Regions from separate parts of the Homo sapiens genome. Here region 2 is linked to region 1. Evidence: fine-mapped expression QTL. A gene starts in region 1. The other region holds a variant in brackets. All regions are shown on one strand. Distances are between the middles of the regions. Region 1 holds the start of DCP1A (decapping mRNA 1A). Region 2 has its middle 28 kb from the start of DCP1A.

Region 1 (5,379 bases):
AATATAAATTCTAGTTCAGTTTATTCTGAATCACAGAAAGGCTCAGAGAAAAGAAAGAACCTGGTTAAGATTTCACAGCTAGGGAAAGATGAAAACTTGAAGGGTACTAGCAGGACGGTTCCAAAGACAAATGTACAAGAGAATTGAACCGTTTCACATTGTTCACCACTAGACTGTTAAAAACAAATATACATATTTTAAAAACTTACCTTCGATATACGAATAAGGTCCCTTCTATATCAGTCTTCTCCTATGAAAGACAATGACTCAATTAGTTTTTTTTCCCCATAATCAGACCCCAAATAGTCCCCATGGAGAAGTAATGCTTCACGTTTAAGATCAACTTGTTTCATTTCATCTATTATAAAATTAACCACTTTTGAACAGGTAAAGTCTCCCTCTCATTCCACAAATTGTGGTTACCATTTCTAATGTATCCTTTCAGTGCATAAGCATATGCAATATTTAATCCAGCAACATATCTGTATCTGCAGTATTTTTCTTTTTTAATTAGTAAAGGAGAAAATCATAGAATAAACCTTCACTTTTTATAGCTAAAATATTTTAGCCAGATTTCTTAACTTTAAAGCTAAGGTCCTGTATACTGCAATTTCTTCTCTTTTAAGTTTATCCAAGTTAATTTTAAAAAAGGAAAGGAATGAAACTTTCTTATAGGATACTTTGTTTCATCACTAGGGAGTTTTCGTACATTTTGACAACTAGCAAATTTTGTGGTTAAGAATTACTACCAAACAAAATCAGCTTGTTATTTTTAGAACTTGAAGAATCTTGAATACTGAAAGTATACCCTGCCTCAGTGTAATTATTGGAGGCCTTTACCATAGTTCATTTTCTGTGACAAGAGTGTATTTAGGTTTTAAACACAGTTCAGTGTTTTTTAAAAAATAAATAAGCTTATTAGTCTGCAATTTACAGCCTACAATGGACCTAAATATTTTACTGTAATCAACGCATTATTAACATTTTAAATGTTAGTCATATATTGAATGTGTTGGGATTAAAAAATTTAGAAAATTGATCATCTCGATTTCTTCCAGAAGTACTACCCTAGCTTAAATATCATTATTTTCCTTCCTAAGGATTCAGAGGCTTTTTCTTACCTTTAAAATGTTAGGTTATTACTATAAGAAACTGGTAATCAACTGTCTTACAGTAAAAGAAAATTTGCCCACCAAAAAACATCATGCAAAGTTACAACTCACTGTAAAATAATAAAGAGGGAAAAGATTTTTGTCATGCTCTATGTGCCAGGATCCAAATAAACAGTAGCAGCTTATTTTTCAATTCAGGTTATTATAGCTTGTATTTCATATTTAAAACAGAACTCCACAATGTAAAATTTTAAAATATTGAAAGCCTTTGTGAAAAACTAGGAAAACTCTAGCCCCAAGTCTTCACCATTTGTCGGCAATCCATATTTCAAAATTTATATATAGGCCAAGAAAAGAAAAAAGATTCATAAAATTTCAAACTAAGGCAATGTCTAAAATAGCTACATTTAAAAAACAATCTACAATTTTATTCCTTGTGGCTTCCCATATCTCCTTCTCTTCCAGGAGGCAAAGATAAACAACGTGATTATAAAAACTCTTCATCTGAATTAACTGTTCATAAATGCCAAATGATTTTCGATAAATTACTGATAAATATAATCTATGCAACTGTATTATAGGGTAAACGACATACTACGGTCATCTTCCAGAGTTCTGTCAGTTTAAGGATTTCGTATCTTATTGAAATGTGAACTCCAGTCATTGGTGAATTCAATCCAACAAGCATTTACGTATTACTTTCTAAGTGTAAAGCCTGTAGCTGAATGAGTTAATTAGGAAGGGTCAATTACAAGAAAGTGGGAAATTATGCTTTTTAAACAACTAACAAAGCTTCAAGCAGGGGCTAACAAGAATCAGTGAACACACTGAATGTGACTTTTCGGACCCTCCCCAGTGCACGAAAGCCAGAAAGTACTGAGTCCGAGGGGAGCATTCAGAGATGACATCACCAGCATCATAGATGGAACAAAACACATTTACAGGGTCTCTCTTGTTTGTACAAAGGTCTTCGGGGATCCAGTGAACACGGAAGCCCTTTTCCTAAGTGCCTTGGAATCTTTTCCGAAACTCTGTGTAGTTCGATTAAAGCCGGACCCACCCACCCCCTCCTTCCAAGAATCGAAACTAATTGGATTTTAAACTTTAAACCCAAATGACCTCTGCGACAGGGGCTCTCATTTACGTTTGCCAGGGGGAGAGGAGGAGTGTTTATTTTATAGATAATGTACATATAATTTATCTAATAATCCGCAAAGCCTCAAACACAAGCTTTCAGGCACCCTTTTGACCCCACCGGTCTTATAACTCCCAATGTATCTGCAAAGAAGGCAGGTCGCCCACGTCCCCAGACCCGACGCCAAGGGACTGATCCTGCTCCAATCCTCCCCTCCACTGGCTTTTCCTTGGGATGTCTCGAGCCACTTCTCTCACTCCTATCCCCCAATCCCAAGCGGACCCGACACCCCTCAGGCTCTGGCTAGGCTCTTGGCCAGACCCTGGCCTCGTCTCCACCGCCCTGGCCTCTTAGTGTGCCCCCCCACCCCACAGTAACCCGCGCGGCCCCTTTAAGAGACGGCAGCGGCCGGGTGGCCGTCCTCAGGGCCAGGCGGCACTCACCCACTGGTTGGCCTTGGGGCAGAAGGTGTACAGAGCGACCTGGCCCGTGAGGTCTGCGATGCTGGTGATATAGGGGTCGTGTTGCTTCAGGGCCGCTAGGCTCATCTCCTGCCCAGCTCGACTCAGCGCCTCCATCTTGAATCCCAGAGCCTAGCCCCTCTGGTGGGGGCGGAGTCGCGGACAGGAAAGTGCCATCGAGGCAAAATTCCCCCATCTGCGTCAGTCCCCTCAACTTCCGCCTCTACGCGGGCCTCGCGGCAGGGCGGTACGTCAGCCATTCTGGTCCGCCGCGCGCACGCTCCGGGCGCCGGGTTCCGGCGTTGTCAGGGTCCGCGGCCCTACGATGTGGGCGGTGTCCAAGGCTGCGTAGTGGAGCTTGCAGGCTGGAGCTCCGGCGCTTCCTTTCCCTGAGCTAAAACGACTGGGTCCTGGGATCTGGCCTCTAGCTCGCCTGCCGAGCTCTTTCCAGGCAAAGGTTGGAGACCGCCGAAGTGCCGGCCTCGCGGTGCGCTGTCTGGCAGGGCCCGGGGCCACAGAAGGAAAACATGTCTGTGGAATGTGGAAATGCGGGACTCTACCGGGCCCGTTTAGAGAGCACAGAAAAACATGGGGGAAAGGGAGAGGCGAGAAGCCCAGAAAATTACCCTAGGTCTCAGATATGGATGTGTCGACCTAAAAGGAAGAAGACTCTGGGGCAAAATAAATGCAAGCAGAGAGTTTATTTGGGCCAAGCTTGAGGATTGCACCCCAGGAGCATAGATTCAAGTTGCCTTGAATATATACACTGATTAGCAGAAGGTACAAGTGGATTTTTTTTCTTTTTTTTTGAGACGGAGTTTCACTCTTGTCGCCCAGGCTGAAGTGCAGTGGCGCGATCTCGACTCACTGCAACCTCCGCCTCCAAGGTTCAAGCGATTCTCCTGTCTCAGCGTCCCCAGTAGCTGGGATTACATGGGCGCGCCACCATGCCCTGATAATTTTTGTGTTTATAGTAGAGACGGGGTTTCGCCATGTTGGCCAGGCTAGTCTCGAACTCCTGACCTCAGGCGATCCACCCGCCTCTGCCTCCCAAAGTGCTGAGATTACAGGCTTGAGCCACCGCGCCCGGCCCTTTTCTTTTTTTCTTTTTGAAACGGAGTCTCGCTCTTTTGCCCAGGCAGGAGTGCCGTGGCACAATCTCAAGCTCACTGCAACCTCTGCCTCCAGGGTTCAAGCGATTCTCCTGCCTCAGCCTCCCAATTAGGTGGGATTACAGGCGCCCGCCACCACACCTGGCTAATTTTTTCTTTTTCTTTTTCTTTTTTTTGAAATGGAGTTTCGCTCTGTCGCCCAGACTGGAGTGCCGTGGCGCGATCTCAGCTCACTGCAACTTCTGCCTCCTGGGTTCAAGCGATTCTCCTGCGTCAGCCTCCAGAGTAGCCGGGATTACGGGCGCCCGCCACCACGCCCAGCTAATTTTTGTATTTTTTTTAGTAGTGACGAGGTTTCACCACATTGGCCAGGCTGGTTTTGAACTCCTGACCTCAGGTGATCTGCCCTCCTTGGCCTCCCAAAGTGCTGGGATTACAGGCGTGAGCCACTGCGTCTGACCCACATAAATATTTTTGTCCAGCCCTGGGAAGAGTCCATGAAGGGTTTAATTTGTCTTGCTTCATTTAAAGCATTAAGCAGATCACTCATTTCATTGGTAAGTGTCTGTTGAGCATTTTAAAGCGTTTGAAAGAGTTAGGCACTAGCTAACAAGTAAAACAAATCATGGAGACTATAGGGAGTTCTATCCCCGCCAGACTTCTTAAAAAGCAACATTTCTTTCGTTAAAAAGGTCATGGAGGCTGGGCGTGGTGGCTCATGCCTGTAATCCCAGCACTTTGGGAGGCTAAGGTGGGAAGACCGCCTGAGGTCAGGAGTTTGAGACCAGCCTGGACAATATGGTGAAACCCCGTCTCTACTAAAAATACAAAAATTAGCCGGGCGTGGTGGCGCACGCCTATAGTCCCAGCTGCTTGGGAGGCTGAGACAGGAGAATCACTTGAACCCGGGAGGCGGAGGTTGCAGTGAGCCAAGGTGGTGCCATTGCACTCCAGCCTGGGCGACAGAGCAAGACTCAAAAAAAAAAAAAAAAAAAGGGTATGGTAGCTAGATGTGTGGGCTCACGCCTGTAATCCTAACACTCTGGAAGGCCGAGGAAGGTGGACCACTTGAGGTCAGGAGTTGGAGACCAGCCTGGCCAACATGGTGAAACCCCATCTATACTAAAAATACAAAAATTAGCTGGGCGTGGTGGCACATGCCTGTAATCTCAGCTACTCAAGAGGCTGAGGCATGAGAATAGCTTGAACCCAGGAGACGGAGGTTGCAGTGACACAAGATTGCACCACTACACTCCAGAGCTTGGGCAACAGAGGGAGAAATTCCATCCAAAAAAAAAAAGGGGGGGGCATGGTGGCATGTAACTGTAGTCCCAGCTATTTGGTAGGCTGAGGTGGGGATCACTTGAGGTCAGGAGTTCAAGACCAGCCTGAGCAACATAGCAAGACTACGTCTGGAAAGAAAAAAAAATTGACATCCCCAACAGAATTGAAAATTTTTGTAAGATAAAACCATATTTTCAAGAAAATAACACTAAATATTTGTATTGCCTATGATTTTATATCCCAGGACCACTGTTTTTTGTCATTGTGTTGATGAG
Region 2 (5,379 bases), 28 kb after region 1:
AAGGTCTTAGAGGTGAGAACATGTTACGGTTACTATCTTCTGTCCCTCTTTTCTTCGCCTTGTCATTAAATAGTGCAGAAAAAGAGTCAGCTTTTGGAAGTGTTTGAAAATAGCCTTTTAATGTTTTAGGCAGCTGACTAAACTCTTGTTCAGAGCGGACTTTGGACCAGAAAATGGAATCATCACCTGGGGAAAAGGGAAATTAAAGGCTGTTTTAATTATGTGAAGAAAAACATTGATACAGTACTTTGCTGTTACTTAACGGTAATGCTATTTGCAGACTCCCTTACAATGAGGAAATCAGCCTTCTTAGGAAGGAAGAGGCTTTTTTTTTTGAGACGGAGTCTCACTCCTGAAGCCCAGGCTGGAATGCAGTGGTGCCATCTCGGCTCACTGCAACCTCCACCTCCTGAGTTCAAGTGATCCTCCCACCTCAGCCTCCCAAGTAGCTGGGATTACAGATGCCCACCACCACGCCTGGCTAATTTTTGTATTTTTAGTCGAGATGGGATTTTGCCATGTTGGCCAGGTGGGTCTTGAACTCCTGGCCTCAAGTGATCTGCCTGTGTTGACCTCCCAAAGTGCTGGGATTATAGGCGTGAGCCACTGTATCTGGCCAGAAGATGATTCTTAAGGCACCTCAGAAAAGGATACCCTAATTAGAATGGAAGATTTGAAAGATGGTAGAATAAAGGATTTTCTATATGGAGTGTTTTTTGCCCACCCCAAAGCCACAGAGTAAATTTTGTCTGCTCCTAAGGTTAATTATATTTCTGAAAGAAGTGATTAGTTGATGAGATGAATCCTGTATCCCCTCCACCACTCTTCACCGTATCCAAGTCTGGACTTCCCTTTGGTTTGGTTTTGTTTTCAGTGTAAGATGAGTGTCAAGTATCATTGTATAATATAAGTCAAATCTTAATTTAAATGTCTTTTTGTTGATCAGCCTTGTCAATGGAAAAGTTAATTCTCTAAAAAAACTGAAAGAAAATATTTCAGGGTTTTCAGATTTTCTGTGCTAATTGAACTTATACTGATATACCCACAAATAGCCAACTTAGCTGAGATTTGGCATATATGTTAAAAGTAAGAATGAATTAAAAGCATGTTGTGACACTGCTGGTAATGTAGATATACTTGGTATAGCAAAATCGGGGGACTAAATCATTATTGCAATGCTTTTTTTTTTTTGAGATGGAGTCTTGCTCTGTCTCCCAGGCTGGAGTGCAGTGGCGCAATCTACGCTCACTGCAAGCTCTGCCTCCCGGGTTCACGCCATTCTCCTGCCTCAGCCTCCCCAGTAGTTGGGACTACAGGCGCCCACCACCACGCCCGGCTAATTTTTTTTGTATTTTTAGTAGAGACGGGGTTTCACCATGTCGGCCAAGATGGTCTCGATCTCCTGACCTTGTGATCCGCCCGCCTCAGCCTCCCAAAGTGCTGGGATTACAGGCTTGAGCCACCGCGCCCGGCCCTATTGCAATGCTTTTTTACCTGGGGCCTGTGGATGGTCCTTAGAAGTTCTAATGAATGCCTTGGTATTGAAGGCAAGATTTTAGGTGTCTGTGCTTTTGTCACCGGAGAGGATTGGTAGCTTTCATCAGATTTTCAACAAAAGGGTCCGTGTCTCACAAAAAAGTTAAGAACCACAGACATTTGAACATACTCTGTACATTGGACTTAAAAAAAATTGATCAAAAGTAACTTACCCTAGCATCCATATCTTCTCTTTCCACTCTGAAAGGCTTAGAATATTAGATATTATAAGATGTACAACTTAACTTTCTATTTAGAATTTTAAATCCCAATGCAATGGCTATAAAAATTATTTCATGAATAAAGAAAGTCTGTAAAAATGAGACACAGTGGGGCCTGGCGTGGTGGCTCATGCCTGTAATCCTAACACTTTGGGAGGCCAGTGCAGGCTGACCACTTGAGGTCAGGAGTTTGAGACCAGCCTGGCCAACATGGTGAAATCCCATCTCTACTAAAAATACAAAAATTAACTGGGAGTGGTGGCATGTGCCCGTAGTCCCAGCTACTCGGGAGGCTGAGGCAGGAGAATTGCTTGAACCCAGGAGGCAGAGGTTGCATTGAGCTGGGATCATGCCACTGCACTCCAGCCCGGGCGACAGAGTGAGACTCCATCTAAAAAAAAAAAAAAAGAGACATATTGCTTTTGACTATGGGATGGTCTTAATAATGTGGATGAAAATTTTCCTGAGATCTGGTGGACTATGTGGAGGAAGAGGGTGTGTTGGATGGCCCCAGTAGTGCTGTGGGTGAAAAATGTCACCTGGACGCCACTGGGAGGCGCTGTGGTACAGGGAGTGACAGGAACCCAGTGTCTACTATTGCCTCAGCTTCCAACTCCCGGGAGACCTTGGACAGGTCACTTAATGTCACTCTGGGTCAATTTTGTTATCTGCAAAATAAAGTATTCTTTTCTCAATGTGTTTCGATGAGACTAAGATATGACAAATGGCAAAGCGCTTTTCTTTTTTTCTTTGAGACGGAGTTTCGCTCTGTCGCCCAGGCTGGAGTACAGTGGCGCGATCTTGGCTCATCACAACCTCTGCCTCCCAGGTTCAAGCGATTCTCTTGCCTCAGCCTCCCGAGTAGCTGGGATTACAGGCGCACACCACCACACCTGGCTAATTTTTGTATTTTTAATAGAGATGGGGTTTCACCATGTTGGTCAGGCTGGTTTCAAACTCCTGACCTCAGGTAATCTGCCCGCCTCGGCCTCCCAAAGTGCTGGGATTACAGGCATGAGCCACCTGCATGGCCTGGCAAAGCACTTTTTAAAACGTGCACCATGACCGTTAAAATAAATATGTAGATAAAAATTGCCAAGATATATTAAGACTGAGGTGCAGAGTAGTAATTTATAGCATGATGGGTTTTGTGTATGAATTTTTACTCAAACATATAGGTGATATATGCAATTTTTTTCTAGAAAAATAAAGAGCTGTGGTTATCTTTAC[G/T]GAATAGACTAGGACAGGGGAGGGAGGCTTTACTCTTCATTTTATTATTTCTATTAAAAATATTAACAGGGGGCCACTGCTGTGGTTCCTGCCTGTAGTCCCAGACTTGGGAGGCTGAGGTGGGAGGAGCTCAGGAGTTTGAGGCTGCAGTCAGCTGTGATGGTGACACTGCACTCCAGCCTGGGCAACACAGTAAGATCCTGTCTTAAAATATATATATATAAGCCGGGTGCAGTGGCTCATACCTGTAATCTCAGCACTTTGGGAGGCTGAGGCGGGCAGATCTCCTGAGTCCAGGAGTTAGAGACCAGCCTGGCCAACATGGTGAAACCCTGTCTCTACAAAAAATACAAAAATTAGCCAGTTGTGGTGGTGTGAGCCTGTAATTCCAGCTACTCAGGAGGCTGAGACACGAGAATCGCTTAGCCCGGGAGGTGGAGGTTGCAGTGAGCCAAGACTGTGTCACTGCACTCCAGCCTGGGCGACAGAGTGAGACCCTACCACAAACACACACAAAAAATTAAAAAAAAATCATATATATGAAGTATATAAAAATATATACTATATAAAAATATAACTATAAAAATGTATGTATAATATATATTTTATGTAATATATAATATATATTGAAATATATATTAATATTATATATTATTTATATATTAATATATATCTGTACAGCGGGATTATGTTTTGTTTTCTCTGTCATTTCCTCTTGAAAAACTAAAAATAATTTTAAAAATTGAAAGACTCTTGGGAAGAGGGTACTGTGTAGTTGTTAGGTGGGACTGTTATTAATGAAGAATAATCATAGCTGATTTAAGGCCTGATCATAGGAGAGTGTTTACAGGAAGATGCTGCCCAAGGATGAGGACGCATCACAGATTCATTCTCTGGGTCCCTTAAATAGAACAAACCCAGTGACAGTTTTCCTCCCCTAAGAAATCTGTGTCCCTGGCATGCTGTCCTGTGAGACCATGCTGCTGGATTTATTTGCAGCTAACTGCTTCATGCCAGCACCGCTGGAGAGCATTGCCCCAGCAACTGTCCCCTCTCCCAGTTTTCTCCCCTTTCCACTGGATCATTCTCTCCTCACATGCAGGCCTTCCCTAATTCTTGCCTTTCTCGCAGAAGTCTTTGCTTCTGCCTTTGTAAGTTGGGGTAATAATGATGTCTAGGGAGCCTGGTGCATAGTAAGTGACTCTAAAAATAAAAGCACTTATTACTGTTGTGCACTTGAAGTTAAAGGAGAAGTTTCTGGGTTCAGCCCCACAGTAGTACCCTCGGAGGGGTGACTGAGGCCTCTGATTCTTGGTAGGACAGGCACTGCTGGTGAGCTTGGGTGCCTAGCTCCTGCAAACACAGGGTTCCGCAGAGGCCTCATTTTCAGAAAACCCTGTGTTGACCCTACCTTCTTTGTCTCTTTGCTTTCTTTCATTCATTGGGTTCTCTAAAGAGGATTCTGTACTGTACTGTCTCTCTCCAGGTCCTCTCCTCCCATTCTCTCTTTCAGCTTTGTTTTTTTATTGAGACAGAGTGTTGCTCTGTCACCCAGGCTGGAGTGATTGGCATGATCTCGGCTCACTGCAACCTCCACCTCCTGGGTTCAAGTGATTCTCCTGCCTCAGCCTCCCAAGTAGTGGGATTGCAGGTGTGTGCCACCACACCCAGCTAATTTTTTTGTATTTTTAGTAGAGACGGGGTATTGCCACGTTGGCCAGGCTGGTCTTGAACTCCTGGCCTCAAGTGATCCACCCACCTCAGCCTCCCAAGTGCTGGGATTACAGGCGAGGGCCCCTGCGCCTGGCCCTTCCTGCTGTCTTAAGGCCCCAGGGCTGGGGCATCTCTGCTCTTCTTCATACTCACTCTCCAGGGGCCCTCTTCCAGTCTCAGGGGCTTAAACCCCATACACATATATGGCATCAACTCCTAAATTTGGACCTTTCCTCTGATTCCAGAGCTAATCTATTCATCTACTCTTGGATGTCTAATATGCAATACAAAATCAACACGACCAAAACAGGACTCCCGAGTCACCACACCTTCCTGTCCTTCAACTTGCTCATCCCATAGCCTTCCCTCTAGTGGCTCAGACCAAACATTTTGTCGTCATGCTTTACTTCTCTGTTTTTCTCACTCCCTGTATTGCATATATCAGCAAATCCTCTTGGTCCTCCCTTCAAAATATATCCAGAATCTGACCCCTTCTCATGATCACAGCTACCCCCTTGTCTAAGCCCCTTTAGCTCTTGTCTGGGTAATTGCAATAAACTCCTCATTGATGTCCATGCTACCATCCCGTAACAGAGTATTCTGAGCAGCTCAAGAGATCACTTTATTTTTATTTTTGATTTGTAGTCATTCCATTTAACTTTAATTTAATTTTTTTTTT

Evidence for each region. PIP is the estimated chance that this variant, and not a neighbour inherited with it, causes the effect.
Region 2: its variant is fine-mapped to the expression of DCP1A in whole blood (GTEx, PIP above 0.99).

What each region holds. Positions count from the first base shown.
Region 1 is chr3:53,344,693-53,350,071 of GRCh38, forward strand. It overlaps DCP1A (decapping mRNA 1A), which reads right to left and starts at 2,851. Exons shown (of 10, transcript NM_018403.7): 1 at 2,691-2,851; 2 at 210-250. The coding sequence starts at 2,825. RefSeq lists enhancers at 1,859-2,449, 2,450-3,040, 2,576-3,345.
Region 2 is chr3:53,372,886-53,378,264 of GRCh38, forward strand. No RefSeq gene overlaps it. Among named protein-coding and RNA genes, the nearest start is that of DCP1A, 28 kb to the left of the region's middle. RefSeq lists a silencer at 2,349-2,398. The variant G/T (reference allele first, on the strand shown) is at 2,988.